2 separate regions of the Homo sapiens genome follow, and region 1 is linked to region 2. Evidence: fine-mapped expression QTL. A gene starts in region 2. The other region holds a variant in brackets. All regions are shown on one strand. Distances are from middle to middle.

Region 1 (11,676 bases), 24 kb after region 2:
TTAGAACAAAACTGCAAATACACATATAATCACCCCTGGGTTGGAAAATTCTGGGAAAAGGCTGGATGTTCTTTTAAATGTACAAATGTTCGAGCACAGAGACCTGTGTATTCAGTATATTTCTTCCAGCCCTGCTGTTTGATCCTGTATGCGAATGTGCCTAGCACAATACTGGTCTGAGACAAATACTAATTTCCTTCTTTCTACTCACACGCACCCAAAAAAACACTACTAAATAAACTTGATGTGATGGTATCTGGGAGAGTCTGACCATCTAGATCTATCTATGAGAAAGTATTGTCAGACATTCTTGCTACTTCTTGTTGGAACTGGCAATTCGACAGCTTTTATTTGCTTCTCCCTGGAGTTTCAGTGTTATGTGCTATAGTCATTTGAGGGATGGTTCATTTTATCTGATCACAAGCCTTCTAAAATAAAATAGAAAATAGTTGCTTCCTTGGGGTTAGTTAGGGTGGCAGCACTCAGCCAATGGCCATATCTTTTTCTATGTGTTTGGGGGCTTGTGTAAGAATTCTAAGAGCTACAAAAGTAAATATAATATAGTTATCAACTCCTAAATGACATATAAGTGTTGGAGACTGTTCTGCTCTTCATAGAAAATGAAGCTGCTTCTGCTCAAGCTCTCTAGTGAATGCCAAAGCACGTTACTTTCTCTTGGACTTTGATTCAACAGTGGTTTAAAAAAGTCACCTTTCTTGGTAACTGTATTCATCGCAAAAGGAAAGAAGCACAAGGGAGCCAGTGGGTTGTATGATATAGGAGGAAGAAAAAGTCACGGCTGATCCTCTTAGGATCACCAAGCAGTCTTTTGATGATAATCTGGCTTCTCGTATCACTTGCCTTCGAAAAGAAAATATATTTGAGTTGCATTTTTAATTGTAAAAAAAAATTAAAAACCCCATTTTCCTTTAATTTATAAAGTAATCTTTCAGGCAATTAAAATATTAACTAAAATTTATCTATTCCCCTGACTTCTATGCAAAAAAACTGGGCCTTAAGCAGGTCTAAAGCCTGTGTGGGCTGCACCTGGGACGCGACCTTTGGTTTAGCCATGCTCACAGCCAGCCCCCCAAAATGGGCTGGGTTTGCATTGCACCTGGTGGACAGACATCTGGAAGCTGCAGAACAGTGGAGTAAGTGTATGTGTTGGATGGGGTTGGGGGCAAGGATAAGTTACAAAGACCCCATGTCACCTTCAGGTAGTGACCTGGCAAGGTGACCATCCTCCACATCAAGCCTGGAGAAACCACAGAAGCAAGAGAGAAGCCTGCATCTGAGGAACTCTCTCACACACACAGCTGTGAGAAACTGGAAGAGGGGTCTGTGGAGAGGGGTGGGAGGACACTGTAGCCTGGGGGCAGAGGCCCCTGGAGAGCACTGAGAAGCAAAGTTGGAGGAAAAACATTTCCATTCTGTGCCTGCCTCTCCCATGTGTTGCCTTAAGGCACCCACAGCCGACCCCTTTGCCATGAATTCAGTGGCACAGCCCAGGTTGCTGTTGGCCCTATGGGACAATAGCAGGTAGATCAAAGCCCCTGTCTGGGTGGAATCCAGTCCTCCTTGTCCTCCCCTTTTTAATACCTAGGGGTGGTGGATTAAAAACTAAGGCCACCATTTTATTCCAAAGTGGTTGTTTCTGAGAGTTTAAAGTGAACTTTGAATGAAGTTGTCAAGTATTAGCAAATGGGGATTTTCTTCTGTGATTTTCTCTGTCCAGGGGTTCCCTTCCTTCCCTTAAACTCTCTAAAGAGACAACAACCAGGGCCTGGCCTTTAGCCCTTCTCAATACACATCACCAGACCTCATGGGAGCATGACTCACAGCCCCAAACAGCTAGACTGCAGGGGATACAACAAATGGATACAAAATATCGTTATACCAGAATCACTGGAACATGTTGTAAGGTAAATGGATGTGCTTTGGTCAGGAATAGGCAGAGGCAGACATCCTGGCCAGAGTGACTCAGCAAGTTTAGCACACAGGCGCATAACTCCACTTGTTAAATAGCCTGTTTGTGTAAGCTTGTACTTGGCTCAGAGCCACTATTGTTTGTAAAAGGTATAACTGCCCTGCTGACATTGCACATACAGCTTGTGCCCAGAGAGGGAGAGAGTGTGAAGCTGTTGACCCTGTAAGGCAGAGGTGGCCTGGCAGGCCAGGGAATGCAGCTGTAAGTGTGGGAGCCACAGGAGCCGCAGGAGCCTCAGAGCCGGAGCAGGTAGCGGAGATAAAAGCAGACAGCATGAGAGAGCTGCTGAATAAAACCATATTTCACCTGTCTACAGCCCCCGAATGTTCTTCCTGCTGTCCGCCACCCATCCACCCACTCCCCTTGGACCTCAGCATGGGCTGGAACCTGACACTTGGTGTGACACATGTGGACCACAATTTTTTTAAGCAGCATGATAAATATACTCTACAAGAGAATATTTTAATAATATTTTGCTGTAACAAGAAGTCATAAAAAGAACCAAGTAGAAATGCTATATATGAAAAATATAAAAGTAGAATGTTAAAAATGACAGCAACAGGATGGCTATTTAGAGATGCCCGGTGGTCATTCCCCACCTCCTCGCCTCACCACACCCCAAGAAAGGCAATGACTAAACAGCTAAGGTTTAACTAACATCATATTGAACAGTGAAAAGCTGAACGCTTTTTCTCTAAGAACTGGAACAGGACAAGGATGCCCACTCTTAACCACTCTTATTCAACATAGTACTGGAAGTCCTAGCCAGAGCAATTAGGTAAGATAAAGAAATAAAGGTCATTCAAGGAGCAATTCAAATTGTCCTTGTTTGTAAATGACATGGTCTTATTCCTAGCAAAACCTAAAGACTCCACCAGAAAACTATTAAAATTGACAAATTCAGTAAAGTTGCGGGATGCAAAATCAACATACAAAACACAGTAACATTTATATATACAAACTACAACCTAGCTGAAAAAGAAGTCAAGAAGGCAATCCCATTTATAATATCTATAAAATAAATAAAATACCTAGGTATAAATTTAACCAAGGATGTGAAAAATCTCTACAAGGAAAACTGCAAATCACTGATGAAAGAAATTGAAGACGATACAGTAATTGGAAAAAATTCCCATGCTCATGGATCAAAAAATTAATATTGTTAAAAGGACCATACTACCCAAAGCAATCTGTGGATTAAAGGCAATCCCCATCAAAATACTCATTATATTTTTCTCAGAAATATTTTTAAAATCCTAAAATTTATATGGAACCATAAAAGACCCCAAATAGCCAACACAATCCTGAGCAAAAGGAACAAAGCCTGGAGGTATCACACTTCCAGACCTCAAAGTATACTGCAAAGCTGTAGTAACCAAAACAGCATGGTACTGGCATAAAAACAGACACATAGATCAAGAGAACAGAATAGAAAGCCCAGAAATTAATCTACATATCTATAGCTATATTAGTACATTCTCACATTGATACAAATAAATACCCAATACTTGGTAATTCATAAGAAAAAAGGTTTAATTGGCTCACAGTTCTGCAGGCTGTACAGGAAGCATAGTAGCATCTGTTTCTGGGGAGGCCTAAGGGAGCTTTTACTCATGAAGCCAACACTTCACATGGTGAAAGCAGGAGTATGAGACCAAGAGGGGAGGTGCCACACACTTTTAAACAACCAGATTGTGAGGACAGCACCAAGAGGTGCTAAACCATTCATGATAAATCTGCCCCCATGATCTAATCACTTCCCAGCAGGCCCCACCTCCAACATTGGGGATTACAGTTTGACATGAGATTTGGTGGGGACATAAACCCAAACCATAACACAGTGAACTGATTTTTGACAAAAATGCTGAGAACCTTCATTGGGAGGACAGTCTTTTCAATAAATGGTGCTGAAAAAACTGAAAATCCACATGCAGAAGAATGAAAGTAGACCCTTATCTTTCACCCAACACAAAAATCCACTCAAAATGATCAAAGACCTAAATGTAAGACCCCAAATGTTAAAACTATTAGAAGAAAACAAAGGAAAAACACTTCAGGACATTGGTCTGGGAAATGATTTTATAAATAAGACCTCAAAAGAACAGGCAAAAGAAGCAAAAAAAAAAAAAAAAAAAGGATAATATCAAACTAAAAAGTCTACACAGCAAAAGACACAGAGTGAAGAGACAATCTGAAGAACAGGAGAAAATATTTTCGAAGTATTCATCAGATAAAGGATTAATATCCAGACTGTACAAGGAACTCAAACATATCAAAGATAAAAAATAAATCCAATTAAACAATGGACAAACAATCTGAATGAATATTTCTCAAAAGAAGACATATAAATGGCCGACAAAATATATGAAAATATGCTCAACATCACTAATTATCAGAGAAATGCAAATCAAAACCACAACAAGGTATCATCTCACCCCAGTTAGGATGGCTATTTTGAAAAAGACAAAAAATAACAAATACTGGTGAGGATGCAGAGAAAAGGGAACTCTTATACACTGTGGAAGCTGAGGTGGGAGGATTGCTTGAACCTGGGAGACGGAGGCTGCTGTGTGCTATGATTGTACCACTGCACTCCAGCCTGGGTAAGAAAGCAAGACCTTGTCTCAAAAATAAATAAATACATAAATAAGAAAGAAAAGGATGAAAAAGACTTTCCAGGGAAATAACCAAATGAAAAGTGAGGCAATAGCCGTAGCATCTGACAAAATAGAATTCAAGGCAAACTATCGTACTGAACAGGAAGATTACATACTGATGTTAAAGGAACCAATGGAGGGAATGATAGAGCAGGTAGATACCGCCATCATCAATGGATAGAATTAATAACTGTATTAATTGAGAGCAGCAGACAGGATTGCCCATCAGGCTCCAAGGGAGACAATCCTGTACAGCTGCTTCAAAACTCTCAGATGTGGTGATGCCTCGCTCACACAGGCCATCTGGCCAATGCGAAACTCTTCAGCCTGGTGAGGTGGATGAGTTAAAAGTGGGAGTAGAGGGCAATTGGGGCACATTCAAGCTATTATTTTACCAGAATCTTCCTCCCACTAAGACATGTTAAAGACTTGGTTTTTCTCTTAAGGGCAACCCTCCAGCAATAGTCCCATAGTTTATTGCCATCAGGAAGATGTTGCCTTCTGAGAGGCTTGGCCAGTATGCTGGGGCAAGGCGGGCTGCTTTCCAGACAAGGTAAAACCGGCAGGCCCATTCTCGCTTATCATTCAGCTGTAAGTGTCTCATGGTGGCCTCCTTCCAGGCCCACGGACCTACCTGGTTGTGATTTCCCATGGATTAATATCTCCCTCCTGGAGCACAGCTGGGTGACATTCTGAACAAAAGTCATCTGATCTAGTGTTTATGATGTATTCTGGGCTTCCATATTGTATGATGTGGGACATGGAGTCTAGCAATTTAACTTCGTCATTTCCAAACTTTCAGGCTCACCTCCTCTCCAGCCTTAGGGAAAAACATAGCTGAGGTGAAGCCTGTGGCCACTTTATTCCCAGTCTGTGCAGGAATGAATGGCCCCTGACTGCCCAGTGTTCCATCTCGCCTGGTTTGCTTCCTCTGTGCTTTGACATTTGCATAAATCCTTCTCTTGCACTCCATTCTGACTGCCTGCTTGCAGTGGGACAGTCTTTAAACTCTGTGTATTCTAGGACATTCATCTCCAAAGAACCAAAAGTCGGAGTGCATCTGTGCTAGGACTTTACCTGGTACAGGTCTACTGGGGAGACCATTCCCCTGTGACATTTATTTAAGCAAAATTGTAAGAATGCTGATAGAACATTCTTGGTCAAACTCATAGGCAAGCAAAATCTAACACAGTTGAATGACAGGATATGGAGCAAGTTTGGGGAGAACCTGTTTTTCCAGCTCTGGTGGCAGTGACAGACTAGAATGTTGTTAACTCCTCCCTGCTCACCACCAAACTGCAAAC[T/C]GGAACTTTTAGGTTATGTAGAAAGCAACTGTCTTTTTCCTAATATAACGCTAGACATAAGCGTTTGTATGCCCTCAAAACTACTGAGCCATTATAATTCTGGAGATGCTAACATAGTTTAAGGCTATTTTCCTTCTGCAGGTTTGTGTTTTTCAGTTCAATATTTGACCATAGGAAGAAATAGTCTTCAGATATGGCTTCTGCACCAGTAACTACTTTTACACTTTTGATCACATCCTGGAGAAATCGTTCAAGAACTTGATAAGACTTTCACATGTTTTGTTGGGCTATTTTCAGCTTTCAGTAGTGCACAGGAAACAGTAATGGCTTGGCTACCTTTTTTCAATATAGACTCCTGGTGGCTGAGGCCCCCACACCCTTTGTTTAAAGCTACTGTGAGAATTAGAATTAGTAGGAAAGAGTCCTCAAATGACAATATAATATTTCAAACTAAGTAAAACAGGGCTGTACTCAGGTAGATTCTCCTTCAAACATGGTTTGAATCAAAACCAACTTTATTAATATATATGCACTCACCTCAGCTCTAAGAAATTGGGGAAAACATATCCTCCTAAGCATTTGTGGTTTGATAAGATTATCACAAATCCAGAGTAGCCTCACAGACCATAGCAAATTAGTAGAACTTAATTTGCTATTAGCTAATAGCAAATTAATAGAACTAATAGCTTAAGAGTAACTGTTCTAAACTAATTATCTTGGGCTTCTGAAGTAAAAAGGAAGATCCCTGTCTTCCCCCGACATCCAGTTCCTTAAAATCAACCCAAGCAAATAAGAGTAAAATAGAATTTAAATTACTGAAACCAGGAAAGAGCCATAGTCAAAAATCACTAGCTATGAAGAGTGGCTGTCAAATGCAGTGATATTTGAACTAAAGGGAAGGAGAGGACTAGAACAGTCCTAGAGGGTTAAGACTTTCCTAAAAGAAGAAGGTTTTGGTCCTGAATGGCCAAATGGTGGAGCTTGGAATGGCAGCATCTAGGGGCCATGTGTGAGCAGCAGGGGTGACCCCTTCTCTTTTCCTCATTTCAGAGTGGCAGGGCAGGTGGGGTCAGAGGAGAAGCTTTTCAGGCAGGTGTGCAGGAGATGTGGCAGGTGAAGGAAGGGTCGGGGGGAGCTTTATAGCCCCAAATCTCAGGAGAACTGATGAGAAAGGATGTGGAGAAGGCACCTCTGACTCGCAGCTTGCTTCTGCCTCAACTTCTCCCCACACAGTGTGACTCTTCAGCAAATCAGTGACCTGGATCACAAAAGGAAAAGTGACAATTCAAGACCAGGATCACGGCAAAGTAACAAATAGAAGGCACGCAGGAAATGTATTTCGGAAGAATTACTCCAGGAAGTCAAACAGTGCACACATTTTTTCCCTCATAGTCTTAGAAAAAGGAAAAAAATTAAAAAAGGCAACAAGACTTCAGAGAAGGTTACAAGAAATTGTAGAAGGGGTTATAATACAACAAAAGAGATGAAAAGGAGCTGTCCAGTCTCAGGGAATATGTGGAAGAGGAAACATCATTTCAGAAATGATAGTTAACTTTAAGATGCCAAAATGAGAACAGGCACTGCACTGCTGAAATCAAGGGAGGGACACTAAAGAAAGGCTTGAGAAGACTGTCTGAAAAACAAATGGAAAACAAAAAGAACAAAAAGCTGAAAGTTATTAGGGAGAGCCAGACAGCTTTGTACAACAAGGATATCCATCATGCAGGTAATTGGTGTTCCTGAAGAAGAAAACAGAACAATTTCAAAGACGTAAAAAAAGAAAGCCTTAATAAAAGTCAAGGAAGACCTAAATCCTCAGTTTAAAAAGGTACCTTGCGTTTCAGGAAAAAATAAAGCAAAATGATTAACACAGACAGATTCTGGTGATATTCCTGGGCTTCTGGGAAAAATAAACAAACAACATTGAAGTTTCATCAAACAAACAAACAACAAAGACAAAAAAGCAAGTAACCTGTCAGAGGGAGAAATCATGTGACCCCAAACTATTTCTTGACATTTACTGGGATAAGACCCTGGAATACTGTCCTCAGGGAACTCTGGGAGAGACAGTGTGGACCCAGGGAAATGATACACTGCTAATTTGTCATTCAGTTACAAAGGCCACAGGTGGCCTTTCTAAAACTAGAAGGAATTCAGGGCACAGAGCACCTTTGAACCACTCTTGAATCAGCTACCCCAGGAAAAACTCTACTGAGTAAGGAAAGGAAAGGGGCCATCACAAAAAGGGCAGGTTTTCAAGCATTTCATCCATTAAAATATACAGCTGAGGCTAGACAACTATGAACAATCTAGGGACTATAAATGTTATGAAGTCTAATTATTTAAAAATTGCAATACAGCAAATTGAAATTGAGAATTAGGAGGTGAGGGAAGGTAAGAGAAAATGTAAACGCTAGCTTTCTAACTTTTCCTGATAGAACATTAATGACTACAAAAGAAATTACATTGAGTTCTTGCTAGGCACCAACCACAGTTCTTAGTGCTTTTTTGTGTGGCATTTCATTAATCTCTCACAACAGCTCAGCAGCATAGGAACCATTAATACTCCCATCTTACAGATGAGGAAACTGAGACACAGAGAATTTAATCTTTTCCCAAGGCTATGCAGCTAGTAAGGAAAATAAGGAAAGCCATTTGGTCATCTCAAGAGGCCCTGAAAACTAAGTTTGTAAGATCAATACAAGCCATTCCTGATGAAAAATTTTGATAAAGGAATAATTGGTCAGGGATAAGGGTGGCAGCTGAAGTGTGGCTGTGGAGTCTGGAGCTACAGATTCACTCCTTTCTTATTCTGGTGCCACGGAGGTGGGGCATTTCTTATACATGAGGTTGTAAATCTTCCCCTCTCTGAACCTCTGTGGCTCTGGCAGGCAGATATTAAAACATCAAAAAGCTAGGCCCCCACTGGCTGGCTAGTGGAGCTGGATCTGGGGGTGTCTTGATAGAGCCAAAAACAAACTACATTAGGGCTGGGCACAGTGGCTCATGCCTGTAATCCCAGCACTTTGGGAGGCCGAGGTGGGTGGATCATTTGAGGTCAGCAGTTCGAGACCAGCCTGGCCAACATGGTGAAACCCTGCCTCTACTAAAAATACAAAAATCAGCCAGGTGTGGTGGCAGGTGCTTGTAGTCCCAGCTACTTGGGAGGCTGAGGCCGGAGAATGACTTGAACCCAGGAGATGGAGGTTGCAGTGAGCAGAGGTTGCAGTGAGCAGAGGTTGCAGTGAGCCAAGATCACACCACTGTACTCCAGCCTGGGAGACAGAGCAAGACTCTGTCTCAAAACAAACAAACAAACAAACAAACACAAAAAACAAACAAAGAAAAAAACACATTAGCACCCTAGCTAATATTTTTACTCTAGGTGGATCCAACCCAGCAAACTCCACCCACTACACCCACTAGAGTTGATCGATTGACTTATAAAATAGAGGGACATAGATATTTCCAGTACATGAAACACTCAGGACACTTACCATGTCACAACTTCCAAGTGTCAAAGTAGTTATAATAATAACAGACAACAAATGCTTTGTGCATCTGTCACCAGAGCAAGGGGCTTGAAAGCTCTGGGCTGTGGTGGACCCTGGTGGAACAGGCCTCACTACTACCAAGCCTGTATGTGAACTGACCAGAATCTATTGGATCTATCTGCTTTAGCTGCTATCAGTTGCAAAGTGTCATAGTCCGCTGGGGCTGCCATAACAAAGTGTCCAACAGTCTGGGTGGCTTAGAACAGAAATTAATTTTCTCACCGTTCTGGAGGCAGGAAGTCAGAGATCAAGGTGTCAACAGGGTTGGTTTCTCCTGAGACCTCTCTCCTTGGCTTGCAGATGGCTGTCTTCTGTGTCCTCACACGGTCCCTTCCCTGTGCATGTCTGTGTCCTAATTTCCCCTTTATATAAGGACAACAGTTATGTTGGGTTAGGGCTCACTGTAGTTAATTTAATTACTTCTTTAAGCCTTATCTCCAAATATAGTAACATTCTGAGACACTGTGGGTTCAGAATTCAACATAAGAATTTGGGGGAAAAACAAAAAACAAAAATAGAATAATTTGGGAGAAAGGGGAGGACACAGTTCAGCCAATAACAGACAGTGTTAGATAAATTCCATCCAAGTCTTTCAACCTATGCTGCTTTTAAAAAATTAAATTATATTCTACTAGAACCACTATTTTGTCAAGACTAGGTGCATTTCGTAGCTTGAATTACTTCCCTTTTTCCTGATCTCTTTTATAAGATATCGATCACACACTCGCATCAGCAGGAACGTGCACAGAAGATTCCTGGAGTATGGAACAGTTCGGTAGTGATCAAATCCTGACTCTGCTCCTGGGAGCTGTGTGAGGATGAGCAGACCACATGGTCTCTCCCCTCTGACCCTCAGTTTCCTCGTTTGTAACAAAATGTGGTATTAAGGGAAATGTACAATGATATTCACTGCAGCATTGTGTTTGGTGATAAAACATTACAATATAACTCAAATGCACATGGATGGGAATGAATAAACAAAACGTTGCATGCTTGTATATGGGGATACTTTATAACAGTTGGAAATGAATAAAATAGCTCCCAATAAAGCAACATGAAATAATATTGAAGACACACCAGAGTGTACAGTGAAAAAGGAAAACCATCCAATGTGGTATCACTTATATATCAGTAAAAACACACATTAAACACTATTCTGTATAGCTCATGGGAAAAATAAATGTGTTCATGTATAATATATAGTAAAATTATAAAAACACAGATTGTAAAGAAAAGTTTACCTCTGGGAATTGAAGATAGAAATTGGGATGGGGTACAAAGGAGATTTCCATTTTATCTGTGCAGTATTTTTTTCTTTAAAAAATCTGAAGAATGTATAACAAAATATTAGCATTTGTTAGTCCTGAGTGGCAGATATGTGGGTGTTTGTTATGTTACCATTAGTATTTTCTGCATTAAACATCTCAAAGGCAAAGTAAATAGAAGGATGGTAATTGCCCTGGCTTCACCTCTTAGGGCTATTGCAAGGTTTCAATAATAAAATATTTGTGAAAGTTCCTTGTAAAATTAAAAGCTCTGTACTGTGGGCGGCAAGCCACCCAGGTGCCGAGGCAAGAGACCGAGGACACGAGCTGTTCCTGTATAGTAAAATATAAAATAAGAATAGTTATACCAGATATAGATCTTAGATATGATTATATATGAATATCATTAATCATTAGTTGGTAGCAATTACTCTTTATTCCAATATTATAATAATCCTTGCTCTATAATCATAACCTAGGAAAAACCAGGCCATACAGAGATAAGAGCTGAGGGGACATAGTGAGGAGTGACCAGAAGACAGAGTGCGAGCCTTCTGTTATGCCCAGACAGGGCCACCAGAGGGCTCCTTGGTCTAACGGTAATGCCAGCATCTGGGAAGACACCCGTTGCCAGGCGGACCGTGGTCTAGCGGTAGCGTAAGTGTCAAGGAAAAACACCCACTACTAAGCAGACCGGGAAAGGGAGTCTCCCTTTCCCCGGGGAATTTAGAGAAGACTGTACTCCTCCACCTCTTGTAGAGGGCCTGACATTAGTCAGGCTCACCCGCAGTTATCCAGGGGCCTGTCTCCCTGTGATGCTGTGCTTCAGTGGTCATGCTCCTAGTCTGCCTTCATGTTCCATCCTGTACTCCTGGCTCTGCCTTCTAGATAGCAGTAACAAATTAG
Region 2 (11,676 bases):
AAATCTTTTGCTCATTTAAACAATTATGCTATTTGTTTTCCTATTGTTGAGTTTTGGGCGTTCATTATATCTTTTGGATCATCCTTTAACAGTGTATGCTTTGCAAAGATTTTGTTCCAGTTTGTGGTTTGTCCTTTTATTCTCTTAACATAATCTTTTAAAAAGCAAAAATTTTGAATTTTTAAAAATCTAATTTATCAATTTTTTCTTTTACACAGATTGTGTTTTTGGTGTCTTATCTAAGAAATATTTGCCTAATTCAAGGTCATAAATATTTTGTCAATTTTTCTTCTAAAAGCTTTATATCTTTTGGTTTTACATTTAGGTCTACGATCCATTTGGATTGATTTTTGTATGTGGTGTGAGATATTGGTCCAAGTTCATCTTTTTTGCATATGTATATCTAATTTTGCTGGCACTATTTGTTGAATGAGTTGTCTTTTGTGCCTTTATGAAAAACCGGTTGTACATATATATGTTTGTTTTATTTATGCAGGTATTTTTCTATAAATTAAAAAATTGATTATAAAATTCACTTGGAAATGCAAAGGACCTACAATAGCCACTACAGCTTTAAAAAAGAATGAAGTTGGAGGACTAGCTCTACATGATTTCAACATTTATTATAAAGCTACAGTAATCAAGACAGTATGGTATTGACATAAAGATAGACAAACAGATCAATGGATAGATTAGAGAGACCAGAAGTAAACTCATACATATATGGACAATGGAATTTTACTCAGCAATAAAAAGGAATGAATTTTGGCATCTGCTACAACATGGATGAATCTTAAAATAACTAGGCAAAGATTAAAGAGTCATACTAAAAAAGTGCTATTTTATGATTCCATTTATGCAGAATTCTAGAACATGCTAACTATTGTATAGTGATAGAAAGCTGATCAATGGTTTCAGGAACAGAGGACAAGGATGCGGAGCAACAGAAGAAGGAATTACAAAAGAACGAGAAAGCCTTAGTGGGAAATAGATTTGTTTATTTCATGCTTGAGATGATGGCTGCACAGGTGTATGTGAAAACTTACGTAATTGTACACTTTAAATATATGCAAGGTATTGTATGTCAAGCCTCAATTTTTACCAAAGTACCATAAGGAATTCCCCTGAAACAGTAGGAAGAATCAAAGAATGATTATATAAAGGTAGAGGGGAGGGCATCATAGGCTCTAGGAGAGAGAGGTTTTGTAGAGAGTGTGAGTGGGATGGGGTTCCCAAATGGATCTGGCAGATCCTTCTGGACATATAAATAACACAAGCACAGCCACGGAGTTGGAGATGACCATGGTTGCCATAGCATGTGGGGCCCAAATGGAGACTGGACCTTGTAGAATAGAGATGATGGTTGGGATGAGTTGAAATGGTCAGGATGAGAGAGGATGTGCTGTTTCTGTGAAGGCAGGAGTTTGAATTTAATGTAGCAAGTGACGGTAACAGTTTCTGAGCAGGAAAGTGAAATGATGAGCCCTCAACTTCCTTAAGGCTCTGGTTTTTGTCCACTCTCCCTGTGAGACTGTAAAAAATGAAAATTCAAAAATGTTCAGGATTGGCCAATGCCCTCATGGGAAAAGTAACTTTTGAGAATGCTTCTCTTTCTAGATTATTGTTTTCCCTTCAATTTTGGCGGGGTAATTCTTTACTCTCTTGCCAGCTTTTTGATGCCTCCCAGAAAACATTTTTAAAGTTGTATTTTTAGTTGTTTTTAGGGGAAATTTATGTTCAAATAATCTAACTTGTCTTTACCAGAAACTGCAAGTCTTTTTTATGTCTTTATTATTACTCGTTTTACCGTGATGTGGCAAACAGAACCAGTATTCACCACCATTCAGTTTTCCTCTCCTTCTGGACACATGGAAGACAAATCTCATTCACCTTGGGATTTAGTAGGGCCATGAGATCAATTCAAGATGATAGGTTACGAGTGAAAGCAATGTGTGTGTCTCTTCTAAGCTGATGCATGTAATTGCTGATAAGAGATCTTCTCACATTCTCTTCCCCTGTTGCTGTGGCGGAGGAGAAGTGTGTTTCAGGTGAAACAATTTCAAGATTATGGGGATCTCTGTCAGTCAGGTTCCCTGAAGGACTACATGGAAGAGATCTCTGCCTTTGAACCTGTGAAAAACATAGAAGGGATAAGAAATAAACTTTTGCTGAGTCCTGATATTTGGGGGTTGATTTTTTTTTTTTTAGGAGTTTAGGAGTTTAGGAGTGGAGGTTTAATAGGGAAAAGAAAAAGAAAGAAAGAGAAAGGAAAACAGCTCTCTCTTTAATCTGGGGGTTGATTTTTACTGCAGAATATCTTATCCTCACTAATACATAGACTGTATGAGGCTACTCTTCCTTTCCTTGCCTTCCCTTCCTCCCTTCCATTCTTTCTCCCTCCCTTCTTCCCTTCCTCCCTTAATTTTTCTTATTTTCTTTATGTTTTTCTTTTAAATTGAAGAAAAGAAGCCCAAGCTCACTGTTTGAAATTATTAAAAGTCTTGATAATTGGAAGAAGAAAACCTTTGGCATCAACTCACCCAATCCCCAACCTCAACCTCTATTTTAAAGTTTCAGACGTGGACTCCCAGACAAGGACAGAATGTCAAAACATTAATGCCAGGGTTTTGGGTCTTGAATTTCATTATCTTTCCATTCCACCATGTTACAGCAAAGATAATAAGTTATATGATGTTTTTTTCTTTTTCTCTTTTTAAAAGCAGAATAAATTATACTTATTTATATAGAAACAAAGACCCAATGGGGTAAGAAGAAGTTTGAATTTTTAGCACTAGGAAAATATAATTCATGCATGGTGAGTGGGCACATGGATTATTCTCTTCCTATATTTAAGATATTAATGTTTCTTTACCTCACACTCAAGGGAGAATATGAGTCATTTCCATGAATCCAACATAATGTGTGAATTGCAAAAAGCTTTTCAATTTTTAAAGATCATTCTGTAGTCATTTAGTCACAATATTTTCCTGTCCAAAGCTTAAAGATTGAAGCATTCTTCTTCTTTTTCAAATTTAAATTTGTTTGTTTAATTCACATAAAAATTATGTATATTTGAAGTATACAACATAATGTTTTAAAATATGCATACATTGTAGAAAGGCTACATTGAGGTAATTAACATATATATTACTGCATATATCATTTTTTTTGTGGCAAGAACACTTAAAAGGTACTCTCAGTGATTTTCAAGTATAGACTACATTATTAACCATAGATGCCATGTTGTACAATAGATCTCTTGAATTTATTCCTCTTATCTAACTGAAATTTTGTAATCATTGGCCATTTCCCCAAGCCCCCCACCCCCTAGCCCCTGGTAACCACCATTATACTCTCTGCTTCTACCTCTCTAGACACCCGCCCCCCCGAGTCAGATACAAGGGCACCCAGTTGGCAGAGCCTGGATCCCATGCCCACATACCTTGGGACCCGGGAGCAGAGGGAGAGGGACTATCTGCCCCTCTTTTGCTCTGTGATGAGAGGGAGGCTGGTTTCTCACCTAGTTTGGGATTTACCCATAGGAAGGATAGTTAAATGCTTGACAGCCACAGAAACAGTTGTTCTGGGGAAGTTTGTGAGTCTCAGGAGGGCAGTGTGTGTCACCTGTCTCTGACTGGTTTGTTCAGGGAAAAGCTGGTATTGGTTATAGCTCCATGGCAACGTTAAGCGGTTTGCAAAGTTTCCATTTGCTTTAGTCAATCCACACAGCGATTGTGTTGCTTTTTTCCTTCACCATCAATTACCTGCATGAGGCATGGATAAACTTTGATTTTGTTTCAACATACTAATAGCATGCTAGGGAGTGCTCCTGTTGCATGAAGCAATGATAAAGTTCTGCTTTAGGGCACAGATGGGTCCACCTTATACTGCCCATCTCATCATAACACACGTAACTTACGATGTTTTCAATTCATGATAGGTTTATTCAGACATAACCCCATTGTAAGCCGAGGAGCATCTGTACATACTTAGAGAAGTAAAACCTAAGTGTTCAGTTAATGAAAGTCAGAATGTGAACATTCATGAGTCTCTCTTGGGTGCCCCTTCTGGACTTCTGCATTTTCCTTCCCCTTAGATATAAGCACTATTTGGATGTTTATATATCCAATTCTTGTCCTTTTATTTCTTTTTCTTGCCTAACCTTTCCTGCTAGAATTTCTGGGACAATGTTAAATAGCAGTTGTGATAGCAGGCATTTATGTCTTATTCCCAAATTTGAAGGAAAAGACATGTTTATCATTAATCATGATGTCTGCTCTAAATTTGTTACATTTTATGACATTAAGGAAGTTGTCTATTATTTCTGTTTTGCTAAGAGTTTTTATCATGAATGGATGTTGAATTTGTCACATGCTTTTTTTCCTGCATCTGTTAAGATCCTCATTTTTATTTACTGTTTTAATATTTATTATTTACTATTTTTATGTGTGTGTTTCTTTTATTTACTGTTTTAAAAGGACTTTACAGAAGTCACCCCAGGACTAAAGTGGATAGAAAACATTTTTGGTTTTTCTTTCAAGTTATCCTACCTTTAGTACCATATATCACGCAATATTTGCCATATATCATGCAATATCAAGGTTGGAAGGAACCGTAGAGGTCATACACCACTATTATCTGTCACCCAGGCTCATGAATCATCTCTGTTGTTGCTAAGTGGTTGGTTGTTCACCTGCATCTGTTCGAATATTTTCGGGTATGAAAAATGTACTATCCTTGTCCATTCTATTTTTGGAAATCTCTGGTTCCAGAAAATCATTTATTGTGTGAGCTGAAATGTGCCTCAGTGTCAGATTCATGCTTTGGTCCAAGGTTTGCCCTATGGAACATGTAGGACAAGTGTTCCCTGAGGTATGGGTAGAGGCAGTGTGTTTAGTGGGAAGCTGGTAGTCTTCAGAATTAAGCAGATCTGGGTTCACTTTCTGGCTTAGCCATTGACAAGCTGAGTGAGTCTGGATACTATAGAAGATGGCTTAACAGCCATAATTCCTTCCATCCCAGTATGACCCTCCTTTGCAATGTGACTTTGCAACTCCTCAAATCCAGAGGTAGATTCCATTTTTCCACCTCCTTGAATCTGGGCTGGCCTTTGAACTTGCTTTGGTCAACAGAATGTGGAGAAAGTCATACTGGAAAAGGTCTGAAGCTTAGGTCTCAGGGGCCTTGCTCCTTCTGCCTAGTTCCTCTTGGGATGCTGCCCTGAACCTGCCATATAAGGAAGTAATCTAGCCTATTAGATGTAAGAGGATGCTTGGAGGAGAACCGAGGTGTCCCAGCCAACAGCCTGCATGCTCTGACTAGAGCTTCTTCAATGTCAGCTCCTCCCCTGAACTTATGCAGGTGTTTTCTTGGAACTTAAATGTAAGACTTAACATTTAATCCGGAGGAATTTATTTTGATTTTTAGAGATGGGGTCTCCCTTTGTCATCCATGCTGGAGTGCAGTAGTGCAATCACAGTTCACTGTAGCCTCAGACACCTGGTGTCAAGCAATCCTCCCACCTCAGCATCCCAAGTAGCTGGGACTACAGACCCACACCACCATGCCTGGTTAATTTTTGTTTGTTTGTTTTTGTAGAAACGAGGTTTCACTATGTTGCCCAGGCTAGATTCGAACTCCTGGCTTCAAACAATCCTCCTGCCTCAGCCTCCCCAAATACTGGGATACAGGCATGAGCTATGGTGCCCAGCCCGAAATTTCTTTTTGTTAGTCTTAGCAGAGCACTCCACCTGTGCCAGGGCAATCGTGTTTTTTTTTTGTTTGTTTGTTTTGTTTTTTTGAGACGCAGTCTTGCTCTGTCGCCAGGTTGCAAACTCCACCTCCCAGGTTCAAGCAATACCCCTGCCTCCCTGCCTCAGCCTCCCGAGTAGCTGGGACTACAGGCACGCACCACCACCCCCAGCTAATTTTTGTATTTTTAGTCGAGAAGGGGTTTCACCACATTGGCCAGGATGATCTCGATCTCTTGACCTCGTGATCCACCCGCCTCAGCCTCCCAAAGTGCTGGGATTACAGGCGTGAGCCACCACTCCCGGCCAATTGTGGTTTTATATCTGTCATTTATTTCTCCACTTAGTTCATCTAGATCAGATGATTATTACTTCCATGTTTTCTATCAGTTCCTAAAAAAAAAAAAAACGTGAAATAGGACCGTGCCAGGGAAGGAAGCTTAAGGGACACTACTAAACACCTCTTCCATGCCTGTCACTGAGCCAGTCAATATTATTAACTATGTTATGCATGCATGTTATTTCCAAGCCTACAGATTGCTTTCACACATTAGCGTGTTCATCCATAGTGAATGTGGCCAGCGGAAATCTATATGGGCAGTAACATTCTTTCCTGAAGTCAAGATATACCACGTCTAGTAATGCTCTCCTGAATAAGTTATTTATTGAGTATCGACATCACAATCTACGTCTTTTCTCTTTGTTTATTGGATCACAGTGAATATAAAACTATACCTATAGTTACGATTATACAAAAGAATCTTAAGTCAGTGGTCATGGGTAAGACAGTAAACCAATTTATCTGCTTTCAGAGCTTTTAAGAAGTCAAAGTGCAAAAATGACAGTTTTGTGCAAAAAGAATTTTCAACGAGCCTGACAGCCAAAATATACCTGAAGTCGCTGCGAGACTTTACTTGGATTTTCATGAGATCGTTTGTGTGTGAGCACGCTCGTGTTTTTCCCAGAGCAGGTGTAATGATGGGTCTTTACTTACTCTCCCCACTCCCCACCCCCTTCGCACACTCTTTCACCTTGGGAAGGGTATGGGAATGAAGAAAGGAGTGTTAATCGGGTTCCCAGCGTTCCCTTATCTTTCACCTAGCTCCCTAACTACTGTGGATGTTAGGTTTGGGCACACCCATTTCAAGACAAGGAGACTGGTTCTCGAGGGAAGTGTGAGACTGAAGTTACAGAGCCTGTCAAAAGCGGAGCCTTATAGAGGGAGTAAAATCCCACGTGCTTCGTGCTGCAGCAGCTGGAGGGTGGACCTGGGTCGACCTGGGGGGATGCTCAGCCCTGCGGGTCCGGGAGCGCGCAGAACAGCGGGGAGGGCTTCTCCCTCTTCTGGGTAGGGGCGCGCTAGGTGGAGCCCCACCTCCCCTCCGCGGAGACCCACCCTCCGAGCCGGGAGAGGCGTTGCGGGGGGGTGGGGGGGGCGTGTCCCCTGGCGCAGCGCGGCCAGCGCGCACGCGCAGCGGGCGGAAGGTGCCCGGGCCCACTTTGAGCGCGCGGCTGCGCACTGAGCCGCCGGCCCTCCCGGAAGCGCAGAGCTCCGCTGGTGCCACGTCTATCCCCTTACATCCTCCTAGGACCCGGTCGGTAGTCGTCGCCCCAGCCCGCCGGGGGCGCAGCGCCCGAGCCGCGGCCCTCGAGACGGGACCGAGAGCATCATGGGCAGCACTGTCCCGCGCTCCGCCTCCGTGCTGCTTCTGCTGCTGCTCCTGCGCCGGGCCGAGCAGCCCTGCGGGGCCGAGCTCACCTTCGAGCTGCCGGACAACGCCAAGCAGTGCTTCCACGAGGAGGTGGAGCAGGGCGTGAAGTTCTCCCTGGATTACCAGGTGAGGCCGGGCGCCCGGCAGCGCTCCCTTCTCCCTCCACTCCCAGGTCTCACCTGGACACTGGCTAGCCCCTGACTGGAGGCGCTCGAATTAGCCACAGGCTACAGGGAGGCTGCATGGGGTGGGAGTCCCCGGAGACCAGTTGACTTCCCCGTGAGGAGGAAGGTTTGGGTCATCAGGGCCCACCCGAGACGAGCCTGGCCAGCGAGGAGGTAGTCAGCGCCGCAGGTGCGAGCCCGGGATGGGGACGCCAGGGCGGATCCCGCAGCCTGGGGAGCTGGCCAAAGAGATATCCGCAGGCCCCCGAGACACTAACCAACGGCAGTTCTGATCGGCTGGACACAGGCTCTCTAACCCCAGTCTCTTAGACCACCTTGTGCCTTCGAGTACTGAAAAATGGCAGCAAGAGGAAGTGGGCTCATAGTTTTAGTTTATTCCTCCCCTCTCCAGCGTTTAAAGTTGGAGTGAGGTGAGGGCAGCAGAAGTGAGAATGGGCACTTTGGAAAGGAGGGATCAGTGCAGCCATTGAGGCCTGGCGGTGTTTACAAGGAGCGGTGTGGCTGCAAGACTTGGCTCTTGCCATATGGCTTAGAAAAGCTCAGTTCCTGTATTCCTGTCTCCTTTGAGAGATCCCGTGGCCCACAGGTGACAGGAGCAGGTCTTGAGTGAGTAGTCTGCCCCGATATTTAGTGAGCAGGTCTAGGGTTGGGGGCCAAGTGGGCATCATACTCAGACAGCTATCTGCTTGTGGACGCATGCTGATAGGCACTTCAGAAATGAGGGGCCACGGGCAGCAGGAATGGGGGCAAGCTATTTGACCAGTTCCTCTGTGGTTAGAGGCACTGAAGGAAGCTTGCGCTTGGAGACAACTTCTATGTGGTAGTCTCAGTCACTGATTTGTCCACTTTCAGGTCTTTGTGGACAACATGCAAATTGTGACTGGGTTAACATGGGCAACCTAGGTGCAATGACAAAAAGAATGATAATTCTGTGGTTGCAGGGACCTCAGATGTCATCTGGTCACTGCCAGGGCGGAAATCCCTTGTCAAAGTGTGTCCAGCCTGGGTTTAAACACACTTAGCAACAGGATACTCACTGCTTTTTGCAAAGCTTGCTGAGCAGGACTAGTAACTTTTGTCCGGACAAAGAGGCCATTTAAATTTGGAAGCAGATGGAGGCCATTGACCGTGTCCTTTGATGGATCTTGGTTATAGCCATTGCCTACCTGTGAGATTTTGCTTTATGTGGGTCTTATTTTTCTTATGTTACAAGGAGAGTTTGAACTAAATGATTCCCAAAGACTCTTCCACCGCTGACACTCAGAAATTCCATGAATACTTCGATCAATATTTTTCTTCTCCTTGCATTCAGTCATTAATAATATATTGTTAATAGCTACTTGACCCATTCAGCAAGCCAAGAATGACCCTTGCTGGTGGGGGGAGGGGGAACACCTGTCTGTTATTGGAACGGAGAAGCAGGAGGTGCAGCATGCATGCTCTAGGGTGGCCCCCAAATCAGATCCCACATCTCCACTGCAACCCCAGGGGGTTAGTTTGCAGTCTGACGATTGTCCAGTAATTGGCTGGCACTTTTGGGGCCCTTGCTAAATTTATGTTGGACACCGTGCTAAACACTTTAGGTGTGATAACTTATTGACTCCTCACTTCATGGATAAAGACATATCCTCAGAGAATAAAGTAACTTGTCTAGGGTCACATGGCTAATGAGTGGCAGTGCCCTAAATCAGTGATTTGCTGTGTGTCTTGTGTTAAGTATTGAACAAAGATAAAGAATCGGTGGCATCTAGTTGCATTGGAATAGTTTCTTGGACATCCCTCCTCATCTTGCTCTTGATTTCGGGAAGCTTTATCAGCACCATCTCAGGAAGAGCAGTTATCCTGGGGTATGTTCATTCATGCTTCAGAATAGTGCAATAGGTAAATGTTTAGGCACTGGAACCAAAAGCTCTCAAGGCAGATCTCATCTCACCACTTTCTCTTGTGTAACCTTAGGGAATTTACTTAACCTTGGAACCTCAGTTTCTTCTTCTGTAAAATGGAAAGGATTAGGCTCATTGAAACCCTGCAGAGCAAACTTGGGAGTCAGGCAGGCATAGATTCAAATCTTAGCCCTTTCACTTTCAAGCAGTGTGACCACAGCCAATTTATTTAACCTTGCTCAGCCTTAGTAAAATGAGAAGTGGCGTAGCACCTGCCTTAGAAAGTTTTGAAGATGAAGTGACAGAAATGTTTGTAGAGTCTGATCACAGTGTCTGGTTGGCATTTGGTAAGTGGTGGTTGCTCCTTTGATAACAGCAATTTTTTTATGGTTGTCAGGTCATCACTGGAGGCCACTACGATGTTGACTGCTATGTAGAGGACCCCCAGGGGAACACCATCTACAGAGAAACGAAGAAGCAGTACGACAGCTTCACGTACCGGGCTGAAGTCAAGGGCGTTTATCAGTTTTGCTTCAGTAATGAGTTTTCCACCTTCTCTCACAAGACCGTCTACTTTGACTTTCAAGTGGGCGATGAGCCTCCCATTCTCCCAGACATGGGGAACAGGGTCACAGCTCTCACCCAGGTGAGTGAACATTAGCAGTTCGGGGCTGCTGAACCCCCTAGCGTGTTCCTCTTCATTGGCCTCTGTCTAGGCTGGTGGTGGGAGTCATCATCCATCCAGCTCCCAGTCTGGAAGTCTCAGGGTTGGTTTTGTCTCTTTCTTCATACCTAGTCCTAAAGGATGCCATGCTCTTCTTTCGATCTTCCTTTCCACTCTCTAACCAGGTCCCTGCAGTACTTTCCTCTGACATTCCTGTCTCTACTCTTTCATTCCCACTCAGTCTTTTGCACAGTACCACTTTCGAAGTACCTGTGTCATGTGTCTCTGCTTATATGATGTGCCTGTATCATAAAGACCAAAGTCCTACTTTGTGTGGTGTATTAGTTAAGGTAACACAAGGTGCTGTAACAAAATAAACACCAAACATCAATGGCTTAACAGAATAGAAGTTTATTCTCATGCATAATCTAGAAAAGGTTGGTGGGGAGCTTTCCTCCATGGTGTGACTCAGGAATCCAGGCTCATTCTTTCTTGTCATCTTTCTGTCTTCCCTTAGGGCTTCAGGGTCTTCTGCCTGTAGCTGCCAAAGGAAGAGAGAATGAGAAAAGCCCATCTACTTCTTAAAAGCCCAGGCCCAGTGGGAATACGTATCACCTGCTCATGTCCCATGGGTGAGAACTTAGTCATGTGGCAAAGCTGGATGAAAGGAAGGCTGGCAAGTAGAGCCTTAGCAACAGCTCCACACTATGGAGGAGAAACGGTGACATTTTGGGGGGATAGTCATGTCTGTCGCCCATGGCTGTCAAGGTTCATTATTCTCTGATCCCATCCTCCTTCGTCTGTCTTCCCTTCTGCTATTTAAGCCCCTCCTTCCCTTTCATATGCAGGCTGGGGGCTTCCTGAGGGCTAGGACCCTGAATGATTTACTTTTGTATCCTCAGTGCTTCAGTGCATAAGGTAGGGCACAGGAAGGAGCTCACCAAATACTTGTGAAATGACTGTCAGGGCCCAGGGAAACCTGTAAGACAGGAATAACCATCGATAGCAGCACGTGTGCCAGAACCAAAGCCACAGCGTCTTGAACTTTCAAGGAGGCCAGATGATCTTCTGGGCCGCCTTCCAAGGTGGCATCCTTCCTCTGTGGCTCTGGGCACACTCACGAGTGCCTGTGGATTCATTTGCCCAGTCTTCCACCTTCCCTAAGCAGTTGGAGGCTAGAGCTGCACTGTTCAGTACAGTAGCCAGTGTCTAAATTTGGCTATTTAAATTAATTAAAATTAAATTAAAAATTCACTTCCTCATCTGCACCATAGCAATACTCCAGGTACTCAATAGTCACAGGTGGCTAGTGGCCATGCATAGAAAGTTCCATTGTCCAAAACTGGGTTTGATCTTTGGGCTTTTGGCAACATGACTTCTGTTAGAAGATCCAGCCGAGGGTGTGTATTGTGTGTAAGATCTTTTGCAACCGATACTCATGAGAGTTCTGTTGGCCACTGTTGAGACAGCCTCTATTGGGAA

The links. PIP is the estimated chance that this variant, and not a neighbour inherited with it, causes the effect.
Region 1: its variant is fine-mapped to the expression of TMED3 in whole blood (TOPMed, PIP above 0.99).

The regions. Positions count from the first base shown.
Region 1 is chr15:79,327,437-79,339,112 of GRCh38, forward strand. It overlaps a transcript of TMED3 not described here. Among named protein-coding and RNA genes, the nearest start is that of TMED3, 22 kb to the left of the region's middle. RefSeq lists enhancers at 847-1,787, 1,295-2,494, 1,788-2,727. The variant T/C (reference allele first, on the strand shown) is at 5,952.
Region 2 is chr15:79,303,830-79,315,505 of GRCh38, forward strand. It overlaps TMED3 (transmembrane p24 trafficking protein 3), which reads left to right and starts at 7,283. Exons shown (of 3, transcript NM_007364.4): 1 at 7,283-7,588; 2 at 9,928-10,176. The coding sequence starts at 7,421. RefSeq lists silencers at 7,127-7,176, 7,387-7,456.